Linked DNA regions of Homo sapiens. The protein of the gene in region 3 interacts with the protein of the main gene of each other region in a pairwise test. Each region holds a gene or a part of one and is shown on either strand. Other genes may lie near its edges.

Region 1 (6,205 bases), on a different chromosome or scaffold from region 3:
TAAGACTAGGGCAGGGCCAGGCTTGGCCCTGGGAAGCAGGTGAAAGAGACTTTGCCTGAGATTGTGGTGCTATGTGTAAAGGTGACTCCGGCACTAGAAAGAGGAGTGGGGAGGCCAGGTGTGAGGGAAGAGCCCAGGCCCAGAGGCCCAGCCCAGCTGTGGCTCCCGCTTGCTGGGTGATGCCGGGCAAGGCCGGGCCCTTGCTGTCCATCTGAGGCCCCATCTGTGCAGGTGAGGGGGCTGAGAGGATCAGGGCAGCCTCTAGAAAGACACCACACACTCAGCCGCTCAGCTTGGGGCAGCCACCTGCCCCTGCGGGGGAAAGAGACAGAAAAGCGGCCTGGCACCTGGGCCCCAATGCCCTTGCCCGACACCCACCTGCTTACCAGGTAATGGCCACACACCCTTCCCTGCTTAGACAGCTCCAACAAGGTTGGTCCTCCCTTGGCTTCTCAGCCCCAGATCCTCACCCTCCACATCATCACACCCCTGCTGTGGGTCCCACAGAGGCAGCAATTGTCTGTTCCCACTCCCTACTGGTCTGCAGGCCCTGGGACCTGGGCCCTGTCTCTCTTCTCTCCTGGTTTCCATTATATCCAAAGTGCCTTGCATATGGTTGGTCCTTATAAAATGTTGAAGAATGAATGAATGAATGAGTGAGTGAATGAATGAATGAATGGAGTGCCTCAAGGCAGACGGATGCATTTTGGAACCCCTGGGGTGTGGCTGGGATTCTGGCTTGCCCAGGTAACAGCCTGAGGGTGAAGAAGCCCTTCCTTGTGCCCTGGGGCTTCCCAGCTCCTCCAGCCCAGGCAGCTCCTCCAGCCCAGGCAGCTCCTCCAGCCCGCGGCCCCGCCTTGTCCACCGGGCACCCACTCAGTCAGCTCCTCCAGGCCAGGGCCCTGACTTGTCCACCAGGCACCCACTCAGCCAGCTCCTCCAGCCCAGGGCCCCGCCTTGTCCACCGGGCACCCACTCAGCCAGCTTCTCCAGCCCGGGGCCCCGCCTTGTCCACCAGGCACCCATTCAGCCAGGACAGGGCCCAGGGCTGGGCTGGTGCAAGCCTGGAGTACGGTGCTGTGCCGCCCTAAGCCAGGCGCTTCCCTCTCTGAGCCACCACACCCTTGTGTGTTCCTAGGGGCCCAGCATAAGGTAGAGGGGGCAGAAGGTGGGGGAAGGGGCATGAGCAAGGAACTTCGGCTCCAGACAGAAGCCTGGGCTTGTCCCCGTGCCGGGTTTCCTGGTTCAGGGAGCAGGGGGCAAGGCTAACGGGGTGGGGCGGTGGTTTTCCCTGCCCCAGGCCCCTTCGTCGCCTCTCCCAGGTGTCATTTCTGCTGCCAATACCCTGATGGTACCAACCAGGCCCAGGGCCCCAGCTCCAGGGGCTGAGTGGGAGGGGTGGAGTGGGGGAGGGCCCAGGCCCTAGAGAACAGAGGAGGGAGGAGGGGGGAAAGGCTGGCGGTGATAGTGAGAAGTGCTTGAGACCCCACCAGGTTCTGCCCCAGAACGTGCCTGGAGCTCTCTGGCCCTCACTTCCTCACCAGTGAACAAGCACTGGGCAGGGACTGACATGAGGGGCCACAGTGTCTCCTCTCCACATTCCAATCCCTGGCTCTGAGGCTCTAGTCAGGTCACTGCCTACAAGAAACCCTCCCTGACTGCACTGTCCCCAGAAGCTCAGCTGTCCAAGGGCTCCTGGCATCAGAAGCACCCGCTTTCTCCTGAAAGTGAACTGTGTAGGGCTGCTGTTCATGCTTTTGCTAGGACCACCTGGGATGGGCAGCTCATCCTCGTGGGCAGCCCTGCCAGGTCAGAGGCCCTCATCCCACAAAACTGGAACCCCGCTCCGGCTCCCATGCCTGGCAGGGACGCAGCCACAGTGATGCCTGAGGTGTCCCACGGGGGTGAGCCAGGTGTGCAGGGCCCTCCTCCAGCCCCAGGTGTGGGGAGCACACTCCCCCATGGCCCCACACTCAGAACCCACTCTCAGGCCACCTGACATCCCGGACCCTCCAGCTCCACCAGACCCAGCAGGAATTCCAAACCTGTTTTTCCAGCAGCTCTCATGCCCCTGGCCACAGTGAGTCACCCTCCCCACCTGCCATGCCCACCGAGTCATCACCCCGCCACCAAGCCCTGAGCTCTGCCTCCCAAGGCCCCTGGAAGCACCTTCCCCCAAGCTGCCCATGCCTCTCACTGTGACCCATGGACACAGGGCCTTGGAGCTGGAGGAAACCTCCTCTCTCTGGGTGGGGGCATGGACCTTTGGGTCACCTGCCTTGGCAAGTGAGACTACACACGTCCCCACCAAGCTCCAGCCAGGGCCAGGCACCAGATGCAAATGTGGGGCTGCCCCAGGGGGCTCCCGCCTGCACCCTGGTTTCTAAAGGCACCACCAGGCAACCCCTCCTGTAGGTGGATCCTCCAGGCCCCGGCACTGTGTCAGGGAGAGCCCGGCCAGGAGCATTCTCAGGAGACATTTGCTGGGATCCCCGGCATCTGAGACGTGGGGCTCAGCAAGGGAGAGATGCCGGGAGGAAGGGCCAGAGGGTCTGTCTCAAGCCCAGGCCTGACTGGCCCCAGTACCCACGGTGCTCCCAAAAGCCTCAGCCCAGCCCAGGACCACCCTCCTCGGAACCGGCCCTGCCCTGCCCTGGGCCTGTTGTTGTCTGTTCATCAGCCACGTGGCAGCGGCGGCAGGAGGCTGGGCCCAGGGCTGACCTCCATCTGTGCCCCGGCTCCCACTCACCTTCAGCCTAGCCAGGGCAGGGGCAAAGCAAGTCTGTGGGCCCCTCCACACCACTCAGGTGGGTGCTGCCCAGCACAGGCGAGCGGCAGAGCGTGCTGGGCTGAGCAGGTGGATGGGGGCCCCAAGAGGTGGGCTCCTGCGCGAGGCGGTGGGTGCTCAGAGACCCCGTCTCCAGGGAAAGAAAGTCCCTCCTGTGAGTATAAAGAGGGTGAAGGCGGGGACTGGCCTCCACTCAACGGGCAGCAGACCAAGAACCTGCTTTGAGGCCCTGGGTGCTGGGGCCCAGCCCCAAAGAGTTCACGATTTTGGGGAGACTGGAGCCGGGACACCTAGAGCAATAGTTACAAAGTGGCCGGGATGGCGCTGCCCCCAACGTAGCAGGAGGGGCCTGGAGAGTGGGGGAAGGAATCCCACGGGGAGGGCTTCTGGGGCCCTGGAGGGCGGGAGGCAGGGCTGGTGGAGACCAGGAGGGCTCAGTCTCTCCCTGCACAACGCAGGGTGGAGTTGCTGCCTCCACAGCCCGGGCCTTCTGCCCACAGGGCTCCCCAGGCAACTTCGAGGGCCGGGTCCTCACAGTCCTCACTCTGTCCAGTGCTCACCTCACTGCTGCCCCAGCTGCCCTCCCTGCCTCGGAGTGGCCTCTGCCTCTGCCTCTGCCTCACACACCCCATCAGCCCACAGCCACCCCGAGCCCTTGCAGCTCAAGGACCTTCTGCATCCCCGGCAGCAACCCTGAGCCCAGAGCCAGGAGAGTAGGACCAGCACCTGCCCTTCCTACCTCCCCTGCCCTGGACACCCACGGGCACCCACAGGGCACCGGGCACAGGCTGCAACTCTATTGAGGGAACTATGGGGGGAATGCAGGGACAAAGACACAGGATGGTGATGGATGGTGGGGGGTGGGGGGCGGGGGGTAGCGGGTGGCAGGTCAGAGACAAAGTGACCCAGGAACGGACGGCAGCGAGAGAACAAGACCCACAGAGACAGAGAAGTGAAAGTGGGAGAGATGGAGGCACAGCAGCAGGAACAGCAGGGCCAGGAGGCCACTGGGCCCCGTTGCGGAGGGCAGACCTCTGCCTGGCGGGGGGCAGCAGGGGCAGCGCCCAGCGACAGCCAGGCTGGTGGGCGTGGGCCAGGCAGGGTGGGGCAGGTGCCCGTCCTGGGCTGACGCTTGCACAGAGCCCTGCAGAATGCCGCTGGCTGGCGGACTGCCCACCCCCGCCCAGCCCGTGCCTATAAGGCCTTGGCAATGCAGGGGCCCGCACTGCTCCCAGACGACATCAGAGATGAGGACAGCATTGCTGCTCCTTGCAGCCCTGGCTGTGGCTACAGGGCCAGGTGAGGGGCTGGGCCAAGGGGACGGGCGGGTGGGCGGCTGTGGCCTGTGTGGTCACCAAATACTAGGAGCCTGGAGCTGACGACATCTAGGCACAGAGAACCCCGACACTGTGGGTGCTAGACTCTTCAAATTTAAAACAACATGGAGCCCGAATCTTAACGAGTGTCAGATTTACAATGTTTCAGAATCTGAGGATCTTAGAACTGACTCCTGGAGTCACGGACCCTGAGAGAGTGGAGCAGGGGGTTGTCTTGAGATGCTTCTCACTGGGAGAGCGGCCATCTAGTCCCTGCCACCAGCCCCTCCCGGTCCCCAGGTCTCCCCCAGCACAGCCCAGGACAGCCCAAAGGCCACCAAGCCCTTCCTGTCATAGGCTCAGAGCAGCCAAGCTGGCTGCCCCCGGGGCCTTAGCTCCGTCAGGCCCTCAGAAACATAGCCATCTCCTCCAGGGACATCCCCTGGGGTGGGGACAAGAGCCAGTGTCCTCTTGGCAGTCGCAGAGCTCCCTGAGACCTTGGAGGAAAGGCTTGCAACACACCCTAGACAGGGGCAGGGCAGGACACCTCTTCCAAGCCGGCCCAGGCTGGAATACATGTCCCCTGAGGCTGCACTCAGGGCACATGCCCTGCCAGGACCCAGAGCCCGGGTTTGGGGGCCTAGGGCAAGGGCAGCAGGGCCTCTGTCCAGGAGGGGTCTCTGCAGGTGGGGGAGCAGGCCCTGCTGAGTCACCAGGAGGCCTCTGTTGGGCCCGCTGAGCCGGACTCCCTCCCCGCCAGCCCTTACCCTGCGCTGCCACGTGTGCACCAGCTCCAGCAACTGCAAGCATTCTGTGGTCTGCCCGGCCAGCTCTCGCTTCTGCAAGACCACGAACACAGGTGGGTAGCATCTGTCCAGGTGTCCCTGGGGCTGGGGGACATCCCTGGCTGTTGTGGGTGTTGGCTGGAAGGTTGTGGGGAGGTGGGGGGCAGAGGTGGCTGCCTGGCCTGACCACACTCACCTGTGCCCAGTGGAGCCTCTGAGGGGGAATCTGGTGAAGAAGGACTGTGCGGAGTCGTGCACACCCAGCTACACCCTGCAAGGCCAGGTCAGCAGCGGCACCAGCTCCACCCAGTGCTGCCAGGAGGACCTGTGCAATGAGAAGCTGCACAACGCTGCACCCACCCGCACCGCCCTCGCCCACAGTGCCCTCAGCCTGGGGCTGGCCCTGAGCCTCCTGGCCGTCATCTTAGCCCCCAGCCTGTGACCTTCCCCCCAGGGAAGGCCCCTCATGCCTTTCCTTCCCTTTCTCTGGGGATTCCACACCTCTCTTCCCCAGCCGCAACGGGGGTGCCAGGAGCCCCAGGCTGAGGGCTTCCCCGAAAGTCTGGGACCAGGTCCAGGTGGGCATGGAATGCTGATGACTTGGAGCAGGCCCCACAGACCCCACAGAGGATGAAGCCACCCCACAGAGGATGCAGCCCCCAGCTGCATGGAAGGTGGAGGACAGAAGCCCTGTGGATCCCCGGATTTCACACTCCTTCTGTTTTGTTGCCGTTTATTTTTGTACTCAAATCTCTACATGGAGATAAATGATTTAAACCAGTGTGGCTGTGGCTGTGCTATTCTGGGACGGAGGAGCTGAGGGGCGGATATCAGGCCACATAGGTACCCTGAGCCTCCAGCACATGTCCCCTGGGGCCAGTCGTGGGGTGATGCCTGAGGTGGCACCGTCCGTCCCCACCCTGGAAGGGGCAGGCTGCTCAGATGCCTCCCACCGCCCCAGAGGTGGAGGGCACTCCTGGGGTGAGGCCTGAGTAGGAGCACAGGGTAAGAGGGCTCGCAGGCCCCTCCCACACATAGCACCTAGGGGAGAAGGAACCCCTCAGCCTTTCACCCCGGGTCATGTCTCTGAGACCGGGGTTCAGGAGCCTCCAGAGAGGCCGGCTTGGGACACCCCAGGCCCAACCCCAGCTTTGGAGCCAAGTAGGCACTGACTACCTACAGCCATCGCCAAGGCAAGTCCAGCTGCCCAGGGAAAGTTCAGCCACCATCCAGGAAAGTCCCATGGACCCTATCTATGGGAACCCAGCAGCCCCTTGGCCAGACCTCACCAGGGTGAAGCTAGACTGGGCGGGGAG
Region 2 (4,784 bases), on a different chromosome or scaffold from region 3:
TGAGCCACTGTGCCCGGCCATACAGGTGGTTTCACTCAGAGTTCAGCCATTGTCATCTGTGAGGGGGACACGTGGTTGGCTTTGTTGTGTGCTAACTTTGATGGTGACCAGGGGGTTCACTGAGCTCTGTAAGGTGCTGAAACTCCACTGATGTTTGTGATGAAAGACAAACAGCAAACATATTTGCTCTAAAACAAAAACGGAATTCCCTTGACCATCGTGCTTCGATGATCTCAGACTATTCTGAAGTTAAATTATATAAAGGAATTCTGATGTCATGCCATCCACATTCTCCAAATGTAAGACTGAGAGATGACTGCTTCCAAGGTAGCATCAACAAAGATTTTTACAAATGAAAACGTTAGATTTAACACCCGAATTAAGCGTGGAAAGGTGAAACATCAAGGCGGCAGGCAGCCTTTCTAAAAAGTTTGCTGTAGGAAAGATAATGTCAAAATAGGGACCAGTCCTGGTTTCATTAAGAAGCTATCATGACGTCTGATTTTAAACCATATGTAAATACAGTAATCTGAAGGATTTGGCAAAGATTTATTTTTTTTTCCATTTCCAGTTTTTTAAAGTAGACACAGATTTGCTTAGAATAAAGCTGATTTTAAAAGCACACAAAAGTTGAACACAAAGGAGAGGATTAAATTCACCAATGCAGAGTGATAAAGAGGAAAAGATACTGAGTAGGTGCCTTCAGCAGAAAACTGATCATCCAGGGTGATCACCTAATAATCGGAGACTTAATTCCTTATAATGCAAAAGCAAGAAGAGTTTAGTGTACGAACTGTACAGCTGAGTTTGTAGCTCTATCTTGGTTTCTGTTGATTATGAACAATTAGCATAGTTATATATAATCTTTCTTTAGTAGACAACCTGCATCCATTTAAATTAAATAATACTTTCTACAATAGTGTGATATATAAGGCCACAATATTTATTTTGGACAAACCCCTTAAAGTAGCGATTTTATTATCAATGTTATTCATTCTTTTGAAATATAAAGTACTTCAGCTGAATTAAGGTTGCAGATAATTTTTAAAATACAACACACATCATGACTAGTATATTAAAATTATTTATATTCAGATATTTATATCTAATATCAAATGAAAATTTACTACCAAATTTTCACAGTAGACATTAATCAGTCTGACATGCTTATTGATCCCATAGGTGTAATTATAGATCAACATGATTTTAGTGTCTATTCTTTTATTTTACTAAATTAGGAACGCAGCATTTACAGAACAAATAAACACAAGTGACGTGGCCACCCCAGGATCTAACAGCTCTTCAGTGAGCTATGTTGCAAGCTCAGAAGTAATCCACTAACGAACCAAGTCAGACTCCAGTTCTTCATCAAAAGGTGCTGGTGGAGGTTGTCAGACGCCTTCCAATATAGATCCTTCACAGAAAAATTATCAGTAGTTAATGTATCTTGTGATTCACAGGAGACTGTGTTACAGCTGAAACAGGGTAGCTCACTGTGGTTAGAGCTTATGCAAGGGGACTGGTGATTTTATACCCATTATAAAAATTTTGTAATGAATCTATCTGTGATCTTTTATCTAGTGTTTTATCAATATGTATTTTGTATTAATTAACTTAGAAAACATCAGATCGTATTCTTACATAGAAGGATCACCAAACCGAATGCTGTTTCCACACAGAAAGCTTCTGCTTTGTTCCAACTCAGTGCTGGGGGAAGTCACCTACCAGGGCAAGATGGTGTTGCTAGTTCATCACCACCAGCCTCACCAAAGCCAACTGCTTAAAAATGAAGCCCCTGCCCTCATGTGGTTTAAGTTTGGTAGTGGGAGAGATGTCCCAAACTAAAGATGCAGGAGTGTCAGAAAAGGCTTTTCGGCAATAGAGAGGCTCGCTCCAGCTGACCAGCGGGCATCACTCCCGGAGGGAGGAGGATGGGTCTCCAGGAAAGGGCAGAATCGGAAGCCTGGCTGGCCTGGCCTGTGGGCGGTGGTGTGGTGGGCACTGTGAGCGCAGACAGTGCTGCAGCAGCTTTCGGGGCAGATTTTATCGTGTGGTTCTGAAAAGCAGCTGAGGGGGTGTGGGTCGCCAGTGGCAGCATCAGGCTCTGAAAACCCGGGCAGGACGAAGGACAGTAGCTGGGAAGTAGTGGCTGCAGAAATCCATCCTGAAACGAAGGGCTTAAACCTTGTATTTAAAATGAGGATCCCGAGGCCTTGCCCCCAGAGTCTGCTTGACAGTTCTGGAAAAGGCTCCAGAAAGCAAACTGCCTGGTGATGCTGATGCAGTCTGTAGGTCTGACTCCCAAAAGCACCAGCAGAAATGAAGGTGACGGGTTATGGGGGGGACGTGAGAATGTGCCCAAGAGCTAGGAGAAAGCCACGCACACGGGAGGGCGAGGTGGAGACACGGGCAGCGCTCAGGTCCCGGCCCAGGAAACTCAGTGGCTTTTATCCCGTTTCCTTCAACCCCAGATGTGAGCCCTCTGGCCAACCTACCTAACCCACCTGCCCCCAGTGGCATTCCGGTCTTTCCAGTCTGTCCAACACACGGCAGCCACAGAACACTGTCTGCACGCCAGGACTAGAGCCCTCCTCCCCGCTGAGAGGCTGGGACCAGCCCGAGGAGGAGCCGTTTTGGCTTCCCGCTCTGGCTCTTCACCACCGCTGCGGCGAACGCTCTTCAGAACCCACAGCGGCGCCTGCCTGGTCTCTGTGTTTTCTGCAGGGTGAGTGAGTATAAGCAGCCAGGAAAGGCCAGGCGCGGTGGCTCACGCCTGTAATCCCAGCACTTTGGAGGCCGAGGTGAGCCATCCCTTGAGTTCGAGATCAGCCTGGGCAACGTGGCGAAGCCCCGTCTCTATTAAAAATACAAAAATTAGCCAGGCCTGGTGGTGGGCACCTGTAATCCCAGCTACCCAGGAGGCTGAGGCAGGAGAGTCGCTTGAACCCAGGAGGCAGAGGCTGCAGTGAGCCGAGATCACGCCCCTGCACTCAGCCTGGGCAACAAGAGCGAAACTCAAGCCAGTAAAGTCGGAGACTGCATTGGTTCCTTCATTGCTGAGAGTTACTAGAACAACAGTCCTGTCTGGAGGAAGTACAGCAGGTAACTGAGACCCTCCACCTACAGCAGAGCTGGGTGCATTCCCGCCACAGTACTACACAGAAATGAGACTGCTTTCACCTACACACAGGACAAAGAGGTCAGACCTAAGAAGCCCTGCTTTGACTCCGTTTATATTCAGTGAGCAACAGGCAGACTCGTCAGGCCAGACAGCAGCACCACAGGGCGCCTGTGCTGGGGCCTTTGGGGGCTGCAGGCTGGTGGTTTCTGGACCTGAACAGTGACTACGTGGGTGTTTGTGAAAATGCACCAAGCTGTAACTGATGATCTGGACTTCAGGAAACAGGTTACGAATAAATCACTGCAACCCAGAATCGCCCCACGACATGCCATGACAGGAGTCACACAGTCACATCACCTACCCCAATCCGATGGCCAGCAAATGAGAGAGCAGCAGAGATGGAAGGAAAACTTTCAGAAATTCTGCAGAGAATATGCCCCCTTTCTTCATGACGCTCGTGTTCCTCATGCTGAGGGTGGCCGTGCGCTTCGGGTGTTTAAAGAGGAACTCCCTGAGGCGGGAAGAAACGTGTCAGCTGATGTGTCCTCTGTCAAGGGGTGCCCCCGTGACACTGAGAACACACTCACTTGGGGGGAATATTTTCCGGCCGACTTGACCAATCCCATATCCAATCTGAGTTTTTCTTCAAGATGCTTTCAACTTCTTTCCTTCTTTCAATATCATCTTCCTCAGACTAAGATAAAGTCAATGTTAAAGGCAGATCAGTGTACCACACGTGACACGGGAAAGCACCCAGCTCCCACCCGAGCTTCAGATCCGCAGGCTCAATTCAAGAGCCCAGAGGCACATGTCAGTGCCTCGGACCGTGGTCCAAGGGGAGTCCTGGGGCTGGGGGCCTTCCCCGGGCCGCGCCGCACTCCCGGCTCACAGCACGCTCGCCGCCTCCAGGGACAGATCACCTCTGGGGGAGCCCCACTCAGGGCGTAAATACATTTGGTTCACTGTGAGATTCTGGGGGTACTGACAGCGGCAAACACTGTCCTAGGGAAGTCACGTGACATGAGGGCAAAGATGGTGACGGCAGCACTGGTTATAAGAAAAGAAAATGAAAACAGCCGAAAACGGCTCAAAACAGGGACATGACGAAGGAAGGGACACTGTATAGTGAGCAGGTTTACAAGATGCTTCCGGGATAAGCAGGAGGGAAAAGGCAGAAATGTCCACATAACCACAGCTGCGGCCAAATCCTCAGAATTATATAACAGCACGAAACATTAAAGAGGATTTTAAATCTGAGAGTCTAAGTGTTTTTCTCTACTTTTTTGCATTTTCAAAATTCTGTACCTGAACATCTAATTCCTTTTAAAACTAGGGGAAGTTTTGTGTAAAACAGTGAAAACGGCAAGACCCTGTCTCAAAAAAAAAGAAATAAAATTGAAAATACTCAAGAATATAGCTCCCCAAACCCACCAAACATCTGGGTACACCCAAGCTGGGTACAGCCCCAAGTGCCCAGGAGCAGGCCGCACGCCCTGGATGCACCCACACACCCACAGCCAGGGCTCCTGGGGCTCCCGAAATCATGCTGCCCCTCGGAGTGGGGCCAGGGGATGTCCCTGAGAAAGCCTGGGTAACAGGGACTCCTTGTTTCCTTGGTGAAGAAAGCCTTGAGGGAAGCGCTAGCACGGAAGGGTCAGCTACT
Region 3 (7,044 bases):
CATATGTAGCAAATACAAAATATGGTCCATAATAATGTTAACAACAAAAATGTTACTTTTACTACAGTATTAACACTTTGTACATTGGAATTGAAAGTTTGAAAGAGCTATACTTTTAGAAAAACAACAAAAATAATTTTTATTTCTCTGTATTTGTAGACATTTTGAACGAGGAAATTAGCGTTGGTTTATGTTAAAGTATAGGCTGGTGTAGGACTTTATACTAGTTGTTAGTATTAGAGTAGGTATTCCATGTCATCATGTTAGTTTTTTTCTTCTATTCTTTCACTTCATGAGTACATTTAAATTATTAGGATTGGAGTCCTAGGCTCAACGTATACATCTAATAAAAGTTGTATATACATTTTTTAAACTGATGAATCTAAATATTCCCCAATCTATGAATACCCAACTTATCTACATTATTCATTTATTCATGCTTTTAATAAATGTTTAATAGCTTTTTTGCATACCTGACATTTAGCATATAAACACCCTAGAGAGTTAGTAGGATGCTTACGGTAAAGCCAGGTGTCTCCTGTGAGGCCATGTATCTTCTGACCATTTGTTTCTAAATAGCTGTTGTTCACAGGGTATGGGTGCTGTCTGTTGGTTGGGGGTGGTAATGATTGGCATTGGCCCTCTTTTCGCAGATATAGTACCCTGCATTTTGGTGAAAAAAATTGTCTACTTGGTAGTTGCAGTTAGAACATAACTTGCTGGGTCCTTGAATTAACTTTGGAGGGGTCAGAAAGAAGGGATGAGTGGTACAGGAAGAGGGAGGAGAGCTGTAGGATGACGAAATGTGGAAGCCAGGCTTATGATACCATTTCTTTCCGTATTTACTTGCCATGTACAGGCACAGTTCTAGGCTCTGGAAAGGAAAGGAGGACACTTGGTCACTGCCCTCATGCATCTTGCAAAGTCTAGGGGGTCACTGTCATTCCCCTTTCCTTGATATCATGGTCTGGAGGCAGTGTGATCTGTCAGACTCAGGACTAGCTGGGGCCTAGGGAAGATCAGAAAAGTCCTTCCCTGCTCTTCTCATCTCTACTTCTCCTAAGTGAAAGGAATATACAGTTGTTTTTAGAATATTTTAGCTGTTTCACCACAGTTTACTTCCCTCTACCCTTGAATGAGGAGTTGATGTGAGTACTGTCAGAGTATTTGGAGAGGCATACTAGGGCAAAAGGTGTCAAAGGCAAGGGGAACAGCTTGACTGAAAACCATGGAAACTGGGAAGGTGCTTAAGGGTCAGGCCAGTGAGTCATCCAGGTTTGATGAAGCTGGGGGCTAGTGGGAGGGGATGTTTAACTCAGCTCAAATAAGCTGAAGTAAAAGCAGGTTTGTCTTAGGGATTGCTAGGTCCCAGAGGAGCATGTATTTTAAGTATTGTACAGTATGCTTACATTAATTTTATTATTCGTCACAGTTAATGTTTAGTTTTTCATCTATGTTATTATCTAAAATAGGTTTATTTGTTTGGCTAAGCCTGGTAATGCAGTTTTCTTTGAATGTTTCTTTGAGAAAAGACATTCTGATTCCAAGTTGTAGGCAGCTAATTAAAAAAAAAAAAGAAAGAAAGAAACATCACCAGCTCCTAACATGGGATCTCCCTTGGTCACTGTTTTCAGTGACGTCCTAATTATCCTTTACTCATAAGCTCCTTGAAGCCTCTGGGATGTCCATGCCATTTTATGGTTTTTTGTTTTGGTTTGGTTTTTATTGTCTTTTCCTTCACCACAGTTTGATTTTTGGTGGTAGACTGCTAGACTTTAATAGCTAATGCTCTTATCCATTCCCCAATGATAGCATAAAGTAAAACATCCTATTGCAGATGGAATTCCAGGAGGGTAAACAATGCAGGTTCTAAAACGGGTGTCAGGACACAGTTTTAACTATTTTAACTTAGATTCTTTGGCTTAGGAAGACAAAGTTTTAAGAATTATGCAGATAATTATATCAGATGGCACTTTTGTAAACTTAAGAGCCACAGAGCACTTGGTCATCCTTTAAAAATTCAATTTGTTTTCTTATTTTTTTGCTCAAGTCCTGTGGATAATGTCACCTGTAAATGCTTTAACATTATTAACGTAAGTATTTTCATTTGTTAAGCCACTTATTATTCTGAATTAGGCATATATTAGCACACCGAAATGAGTAGTGTAACAGTCTATCTTTTTTCACTTTAGATGTTTTTTTCGTCTTCATTATCAGGACATTTTGCCTGTTAACAAACGAAGGTACTATTGTTTTATTTTCTATTAGAATATATATTTTAAAATCATGTGGGTTTGGATTTCAGAAAGGAGATGGGAGGAAACACATGGCCTTTTAAAGCCAAGGTCCACATTAACTTTCTCGCTTGATCCTTCAGTATTCCCCTGCCCAAAGACCTGCAGCTCTAGCCAACTGGGATAACTCACTGACCCTTAAGTAAAATGTGTACATGTCCACCTTTATGTTTCTCATCCCACCATTCCCCTTGCCTTTACCCACCTTTTCCCTGTTTACCTCTCCAGATACCTTTTACCAGAACCCAGTACAATAGTCCTCCTTTGCAAAGCCTTTCTTGTTTATGGTACCCTGGAGCAAGTTGTTGTCTCACAGGAGCTCATTGTCTTTAGTAATTACTCACGTATTTCCTGTGCCATTCCTTCTATGACCCTAGTGTCAAACTGTTTAAACTTTCGTTATTATTTACCACTTCACTCCTTTGTATCTTTCTCTCCAACATCAGAGATTATCACATATATTTGTTGATATGATATGTATCAGGAGATGACCCTCTTAATCTAGCATAATTTTGAATCATGATATATTGTGGTTGCTAAACATGAATAAGGCTTTAGACCACACTAAATTACAGAAGGTTTTTGTTTTTGTTTTTCATAGAGTGGGGATTTCACCATGTTGCCCTGGCTGCTCTTAAACTCCTGGTGTCATGTGATCTGCCCACCTCAGCCCCACAAAGTGCTGGGATTACAGGCACGACCCACTGTGCCCGGCCAGAGAGTTCTTTAAAAGAATGATATTTTTTATGAGTTGGTCATTAATTCAGTTGCCGTTCACTAAATTTAATGAGTAAATCAGGCCATTAAGTCATTTAGAAGCACAAAACAGATAAAAAATGAAGATTCCAAGACATATAAAATCAGATATGATTGTTCTCTTCATTGTCTGTGCAGAAGCATTGCCTTGTGTGGAAGTGAGGAGGGCAGTGTGGTATAGTGAATGGGAAGAATTCTGGACTGGGATTTAGATGACCTAGGTTTTAGTCCTGGTCTGCTGCTGATTTGCTATGAGAGTTTGGACAAGTTCCTTTGCCTTCCCAATTCTCAGCATTGTTCTCTGTAAATTAAGAGGGTTAAATTAGGTAATCTGTAAGGTCCTACCTGACTCTAAAAGTCTAGATATAGATATCACTTTCTTTATTCTTGGAATAGGTAAAGCAATTTCAAATAAATATACATTTATCAGGGATTCAGAAACCTCATTCTTTATAGTAAATAAAATTTTTTTCCAGCAAAACTGTTATCAACACTGCCTAAATAGTACAAATAACAGATTCTTATTTAGTTCTTTTTACTTTTTAAAATTTGCTTTATAAGAAATAGGTAGAGGAATAGAGCAACAAAAGTATACAGATATTTAAGCGTCTGTTTTGAAATAACATTGCTTTTGTTGCTGTAACACTATACCTGTTTAATTATCTGGATTCCTTGAATAACCAAGAGCCAACTATTTTATCGAAAACAGTAGCAATAATATTAAAGAATAAAATTATCTCAATTATATATTACATTTATTTTGTGATACTCAGCTTTTGAGGATGGCATATTATGTCGTTTTAGGCAAGTTATTCATGACTCTTTGGGTCTCTTATTTCTACCTGTGCTGTGAGAGGGTTGAACTACATAACCTTTAAGGCTTAGTTTATTGAATCCTTATAACATCTCCTAAAACAGCAGCCTAGATATCAGTCTAAACTCAGTCTTCATATTTTTCCAATAGAAAATGTGAAATTTTAACATACATCATTACAAATGATTTTCTATTATAAACACTTTATATATGAGCATTTTTTACTTAAGTTTGGAAGTATGGCTTAAGATTTTTGTAAAATTGATAAAAATGTGTAGGTCTTACAGAAGAGAAAACAAAAGAAACTAAATGGTTTTGGTATAAGTATGTTCCTTAACTAATCAAAATACAAATTTTTAAAATCTTTTGCCATATATTTTTCTTCATGAAATATTACCATTTGTAAACAAATACCTTAGAATGATGTTTTATTTATGATTATATTGTATTAGAGTAAAATTTTTGGAATTTGAAAGACAAATGCATTAGTCCACTGAGGAAATCAGTTACTCACTGTCAGGTATAATCACATAAAAGCATTTGTGATTTTGAACTGCAGAATTCCAAGAAACAAGCTTTTCTGTTTTCATTTTTATTCACTTATCAAACAAAAACTTGAGCACAGATGTGTGTTTTTAACTAATTTTATATATTTTTTCACACACGTACATAGCAGCATTATTCACAGTAGTTAAGAGGTGGAAACGACCCAGATGTCCAGTGTTGGATAAATGGATAAACGCAACGTGGTATATACATACAATGGAATATTATTCAGTCTTAAAAAGGAAAGAAATTCTGACATGTGCTACAACATAGATGAACCTTGTTACTAAGTGAAATAGTCTAGTCACAAAAAGATAATTATGTATGTGGCATTATGGTTCCACTTATATGGACCCTCTACTGTAGTCAAATTCGGGCTGGGCCCAGTGGCTCATGCCTATAATGCTAGCACTTTGGGAGGTGGAGGCTCAAGGATCACTTGAGCCCAGGAGTTCAAGACCAACATGAGCAACAAAAAAATATTAAAAATTAGCCAGGCCTGGTGCCATATGCCTCTAGTCTCAGCTATTGAGAAGGCTGAGGGAGAAGGATCACTTGAACCTGGGAGGTGAAGGCTTCAGTGAACCATAATTGTGCCACTGCACTCCAGCCTGGGTGACAGAGTAAGATCCTGGCCCAATAAATAAATAAATAAATAAATAAATAAATAAATAAAGTAGTCAAATTAATAGAAACAGAAAGTAGAAAGATGTTTGCTAGGGCCTGGGGAGAAGGAGAACTGATGACTTGTTTAATAGGTATAGAGTTTCAGTTTTTCAAGATAGAAAAGTTCCAGAGAGTCACAACAATGTGGATATGCTTAATGATACTGGACTGTACACTTAAAAATGATTAAGATGGTATATTTTATGTTATGTGCTTTTCTTTTTACCGCAATGCAAGAATTTCATATATTATAAAATTAATACATTAGCACCTGTAGAAATGATCTCTTTAGTGCTCAATGGTAAAACAGTCAATTCTTCTTTATTTTTTCAATTTAAAGTAAAATGACTTTATAAAGAGACTATATAGCTGTTGGCTTAAAAAAAATCCGAGTGGCTAGAAAGTAGCAAATAACAAGAAAGAAAACTTTAGCTTTGTATTTTGCTTTATGGTTTTACAAACAACTTCACAATAACTCTGGGAGATAGGCCTTGAAGGCATTTTTTCCATATATTTAGAAGTCTTTGAGATTTACAGAAGTTACGTAACTTTTGTAGGTGGTCACTATAGTGCAAATGAATGTGCATGGGTTGTTTTGTCCCTAGCCCAGTGCTCTTGTCTTCCCGTCACACTAGCCAAGCAAGAAAGAAATAATCAGGCCTGTAATCTGTGTTTCTCTTTTATTTTACCTTTTCTTTTATTGTTATCTACAGAGTATCACTGTTTAGAATACTAAATCTGAACAAAGTCATAATATTACCAAAGATCATCTAAAGAAAGACATCTAAATATTCAAAGGTGCTATAAAGGCTGGTGTATGAGATTAAACTACAAAGTGATATTTATTCATATACTATATACATACACAAATATGTGAATATATGTAGAATACAAAATGCGATATTTAGCCTGAGAAGATGGTTAACTTCCATATGACGGTGTAGGATTGTTTAAAAAAAGTGTATTCAAAGTGAATTATGAAAGTATTTGCCAAATTGCATAATACAAGAGCTAGAAACTTGTTAGTGAAAGGATAATGAAATTCATTCAGGACTAACCGTATTTTACCCAGTGGCTATTCAACTTATAGAACTGTTAGAGTCAAGGGAAGATTTTGGCTAAAGTTCCCATTAACTCACACACTCACACACTCTAATGGTATCTTCCATCTTTTTTGCTAAAGGGAAACACCATTTCAATTTTCTTAAAGCTTTGAGTTCATTGGCAGCATTGGGTGGATGGTTGAACTTGGAACTCCCAGATTAAGTTTTATGACTACTTTTTCTGAGAAGCCCAGCAAAATTGGAAACAAGGAGAGAAGGAAACTACTTGTATTCTGATCTTGGCTTCCAGGAAACGAGGCAACATTCTTCAGCTCTCTCTCTCGAGATATATTTTCTCCCTTGAAATTGTCTCCTTTTCCCTTATGAACTGGCTTTTATGAATAGGCCATTTTCTGAAGTCATGAATTTGGACATCACCTGCACTTGGGCATGGTGGCTCACGCCTGTAATCCCAGCACTTTGGGAGGCCGAGGCGGGTGGATCATTGAGGTCAGGAATTTGAAACCAGATATCGTCTGCACATGATGAAACTCACTACCATTTATTGAGCATTTAGTATAGGACCATTTTAAGATGCTGTAGTACTGTATTTGATACACCTTATATTTAATTTTCAGATCATCTCTATAAGTTAGATATTATTTAACCATCTATAGATGAAGAAATAGACTCAAAGCTACATAGCTAGAAAGTAACAGAGTTGGAATAGGATCAAGATCTTTCTCCTTCCCAACAGTGACCTTTTTATAATGCAACATAGCCTACTTATTTATTCAATAAATACCATTTTATTGCCCAGTAATAATAGTGAACATTTATTGGATGCTTACTAAGTGTCAGGCACTGTGTCCAGTGTTTTATATGTATTATCACATTTAGTCCTCATATTCCATTGGGCTCGGTA
Region 4 (4,450 bases), on a different chromosome or scaffold from region 3:
AATATTTGCAGAAATATAGTTCCTTTCATATTACAGTTGTTTTGCAAGCAATTTCCACATTTATAGGTGTAACAAAAGCTAAATGTTGTAAATGTTGTTGCCCTCAGGTATAACTAAAAACATTCCAGTAAATATATTTTTGACTGTGTAAGAGAATGTGTAGTAATTTTTTTGGCATTGGATTATGGAAATGGAAATTTTTAAACAGTGTGAAAAAACATGGTATGGCATCATAAAACTGGAGATAATAAAGTTATTGAAGAGTGTCATTGGAGTATTTGAAAATGACCAATATATAGCTGCCAGTCATGGTCCAGTCTGTTTTCTGTTAAACTCCAATAAAGAGAGACCAGTCAGTCCTAATGTGAGTAAATGAAATTTACAGGTAACTTACTTACTCCTTAATTTTATTTTAGTTAATAGCCTCTAACTTCCAACTATCTCATTTACCAAAAGTACAAAAAGTAGCAAAACCATCTATTAATACTTTGAATTTTATATCTTTGCATTTCCTGTTCATCCTTGAGGAGATGTATGTTGCACAATCAAATTTTGCATCAGCCAACAGTAATGAGTAGTAGAAAGTCAGGAACCTATGTGTATATATATATATATATATATATATATATATATATATATATATACACACAAACACACACACACACACACACACACACGCACACATATGATAATCAGTCAGTCGGTAACCAAATGCTAGAGAGTGACCATTAACCTAAGCCTGTTTTTATAATGAAAAAATGTGTTAACTTTAAAATATGCCAACCTCCTTGTGTCTTTTAAACAAGTCAGAGTGAAAATACATTGTCCCCTAAGGTGTGGGGAGAGGAAGCTTTATAATAAAATTAGTGATTCTGCAGAAACTTGTGCACTGGATATCTTGACAATATGAATATAAAACTCCCTAAATTAAAAATAGGGTTAATAGAAATTATCAGTATTTAAATAGGGAAAAATGATTTTATGTTTATTTTATTTAGGTTTTATTTCTTTGGTCATCTTAATGCAAAATGAATAAAGCATAGAATCTGGGTTTGGTGTTTTTTTGTCTGTTTTTAAAATTCTACAGGATTATTACTAGGAGGCAAAAAATGCTGTTTAGAATGGAAAAAATTTGAAGAGAGAAAGCAGACTGAGACACTCAAGACACCTGCAAGTTATCTAAGAAGATCTAAATAGAATTACTAAATTTTATAGTTTGCTTAGAGCATTTAGAAGGAGATAAAGGTCTTACATACTATAGTGTATATTGTCTTTGGTCTCTATGCTCTTTGTAAATGTCAATTAATATAAACAGCATCTGAACAGCTAATAAATCTTTTAAGTTAAGATACCCAGAAAAATGAGCATTTTTAGAATTTCAGTAGCTAATAATTCAGGAATGGAAATATTTTAACTGAATGGACAGAATCAGTCCTAACATTTGTATGTATGTCCTTTATTTGAATTGGAACTAGGCTCATAAGTGGTTAATTTTCCATTAGTTGATGTAGAAATCTGGTTTCTCCATAATATCTACAAGTGAAGATGAAGATTACTTCTCAAAAAGTATCCATATTTCCAGTGTTCCTTTTAATAAAATATGCCACTTTTAAATAAATAATTACAAAATGTAAAATTATAAAATTTTTAAATTTAAATAATAAGTAACAGTAAAATTTTTTGACAATATATATGTCACTGTCTTTGTAATTTAAACATATTGCTGCCTGGGATATGGGTAACAGAATTATCACTCATGGAACTTTGTAGTAGTGATGGCTTGGTTTGTAATTCATCATTTCATCTTTCTTGGTCTTGATTAATCCTGAAATCCTTAAAATGGCTGGCATGGTTATGACTTTATTGTGGTAACCTTGGAGATATAAGCCCTCTTACGATCAAAAACAGAAGAAAAAAATATATTGTTCAAACTGATGCCAGGCCTACCTTTATTCCCTCCCTTAATTACTTTTTTTCTCATTCAGCTCAGATCATCCTGCACTTGAAAAATGAAGTTTTACCACCATCAAAACTATCATTATTTAACAACAAGTGAAGATCAACAGAAAAATTCAAGTAGCTTTGCAAATACTAGTTGATACTCAGTGAAATCACGTCACTATTTTGATGCCTGAATCCATACCTTTGTGATTTATGTTTAATTACAGAAGCCTATTGCCTTGCAGCAATTTTGTTGTTATAATACTGATTAATTGGTTACTCCTTCTTATTATAACTCAGTAATACCTGTGGTCATTTGGTTCCTCTATCCTGACAAAGTTCACTGGAAATTGCCCTCAGATTTTATAAACTGGGGGATTTCTTAATTAGATAAAAGTTCATTACTGAAGATGGAATATTATATAAGATGGAGGAAGGGTAATTAATAGACATGAGATATAGAAATACTTTGTTAGCCCTGCTATAGATTGCCTATTGTAGTCTTTCTGTGCATTTCAATAGTCTGTATTAGGAAATTATAACTTCAGCACTTTTGATAGCAAAAATTGGCATCTTTCAATTCTGTATAGTATGTGACTATCCTGTAAATGATAATATGTGTACAGACTGAGAAGGCAGGAATATAAAGTAATTGAAATCTCTCATTGCCGGTATACTCTAAAACATGCTTGATGCCTTGTCAGCATCATTGCACACATTGACTCTGTATTTACATCTGTATATACACTATGATTAGAAAATATGCAAGAAATTGTTTTTCCATGTTAAGAACAAATGCCATTAGAAGATGTCCCCTTAATTGTATTGTCAGAGTATTACTATGTCAAGGATGACTGTTCTGTTAACCTAATTTTGTGTTTTCACATGGAAATGTGATTGGACTCCATTTTTCTGTGAGTTGAGAGTAAGAGCATAAGTCAGTTTGAAAGCATTTACAAGTTTGTTTTAGAATGTAGTAAGGGCTGAAAGGTGCTCTACTTCTTAACTTGTTTTTTCCATGTTGTAGACAAATGAAATTTGTCTAAATGCTTTTGTCTAAAAATGCATTTGTCTAAATGCTTTAGATTGATGTAGGGTTTAGATCCTCTTTAATACTTTGAGATAGTCTTATTCTGATTTTTTTTTTCTTCTGGAAACCAAGTAGAATTAGGGATGGGAATACAAATGCATTTATTCTGGCTTCTGTTTTATTCCAAGAAGCTTCTTGGAACAAATCAGTAGGAATTGAAAAGAAAGCATGACCAACCCAATTACAGGGGATAAATGTAAGCTTGTTAAAGTAAGCACCACACCATGTTTCTGTCTCCCCAGCACCCAGCACAGTGCTGTGAACCTTGGCAGATGCTAGATAAATGTGTGTTGAATGAATGTGCCTATGAAGCCACAAAGATGCCACATGTTAGTATATCAGTGAGAGGTGACTCCACAGTGCTCTCTGGAGAAGCAATATGAGTGACTGAAGAGTGGGGCCTTTTGCTTTTGCCTGGATATAGGGGTGCTCTTCTACTGTAATTGGGTGTGGAAAAACTCTGGCTTTATGGTATTCCATTAGGTTCTTTTCATTTAAAGTAGTCTTAAAATCAAAGTATCCAATATTTTAAAGCCACAAAGTAGATTACATAATTAGCAGAGATTTTAGTCAGTAAAATGTTAGAAATCAAACTATAAGAAAATTCAAGTCCTTTATTTTGTGTCTTGGGTATATGTCATTATTTTAAATTCCACACTCCCTTATTTAATCACTTTGGTAAGTGCCTTTGATGTTTTGAAATGTATAGTGGGAGATGAGCAAATGTAAATGTCATGTGCCCTGTTCCCTAGCTTCTCAATTCCTCATAACCATTTTTACCAGTGTTGCAAAGTTTAGACCTTTGTGTTAATATCAGAAGTGTATTTGTAGCCCCTCCATAGTGAACAATGAAATAAACTATTTCATAGAAAACAAAAATTAAGCACTTTGGCTTATTCAATATGTGTTACCTGTTGCCTTAACTTCAAAGCATAGCTTATTTAACAATAACATCTGGATAATCACCCCTGATTTAATCTATCCTATTTTCCCAATAAAGTGCATGGAGGAAAAATAAGAAAAAGAAAAGGCATTCTTTCACCAAAAATTATGCCTGATACTGACAAAATCTAAGAAGAATTTCTTAGTGATTTTTAACTCAGTAAAGCAATGTCTTTACCTCAGTCCACAGTGTCTGTAGGAGAGGAAGGCAGGCAGTTTTCTCTTAAACTTACATGTCCCAATCAGAAAACCTGATCCTGTCCCTCAGCTGCCTGGTGCTTTAGGCAACCAGAGTAATGTTCATTCTCTCTAGCCTCCCTCCACCCACACACTAAACTGTGTCTTTTTGTTTTTGTTTCTGAGACAGGATCTTGTTCTGTCTCCCAGGCTGAAGTGCAGTGGTGCGATCACAACTCACTGCAGTCTCAGACTGCTGGGCTCAAGCAATCCTTCCACCTCAGTTCTCCCAAGTGGCTG

What was found.
Region 1: the proteins of ELOVL4 (region 3) and LY6D interact in binary tests that used the Homo sapiens proteins (3 or more experiments, as listed by UniProt).
Region 2: the proteins of ELOVL4 (region 3) and BNIP3 interact in binary tests that used the Homo sapiens proteins (3 or more experiments, as listed by UniProt).
Region 4: the proteins of ELOVL4 (region 3) and VAMP4 interact in binary tests that used the Homo sapiens proteins (3 or more experiments, as listed by UniProt).

The regions. Positions count from the first base shown.
Region 1 is NC_000008.11:142,784,347-142,790,551, reverse strand, and holds LY6D (lymphocyte antigen 6D precursor), read left to right. Parts: upstream 1-4,012; 5' UTR 4,013-4,035; coding exon 4,036-4,087; intron 4,088-4,864; coding exon 4,865-4,963; intron 4,964-5,095; coding exon 5,096-5,331; 3' UTR 5,332-5,670; downstream 5,671-6,205. UniProt on the Homo sapiens protein: May act as a specification marker at earliest stage specification of lymphocytes between B- and T-cell development. Marks the earliest stage of B-cell specification.
Region 2 is NC_000010.11:131,967,156-131,971,939, forward strand, and holds the end of BNIP3 (BCL2/adenovirus E1B 19 kDa protein-interacting protein 3), read right to left. Parts: intron 4,379-4,784; exon of another isoform or gene 3,816-4,378; coding exon 3,709-3,815; exon of another isoform or gene 3,633-3,708; coding exon 3,483-3,632; exon of another isoform or gene 2,500-3,482; coding exon of another isoform or gene 2,472-2,499; intron 1,415-2,471; coding exon 1,369-1,414; 3' UTR 529-1,368; downstream 1-528. UniProt on the Homo sapiens protein: Apoptosis-inducing protein that can overcome BCL2 suppression. May play a role in repartitioning calcium between the two major intracellular calcium stores in association with BCL2.
Region 3 is NC_000006.12:79,937,546-79,944,589, reverse strand, and holds part of ELOVL4 (very long chain fatty acid elongase 4), read left to right. Parts: intron 1-7,044. UniProt on the Homo sapiens protein: Catalyzes the first and rate-limiting reaction of the four reactions that constitute the long-chain fatty acids elongation cycle.
Region 4 is NC_000001.11:171,699,620-171,704,069, reverse strand, and holds the end of VAMP4 (vesicle-associated membrane protein 4), read left to right. Parts: 3' UTR 1-3,910; downstream 3,911-4,450. UniProt on the Homo sapiens protein: Involved in the pathway that functions to remove an inhibitor (probably synaptotagmin-4) of calcium-triggered exocytosis during the maturation of secretory granules.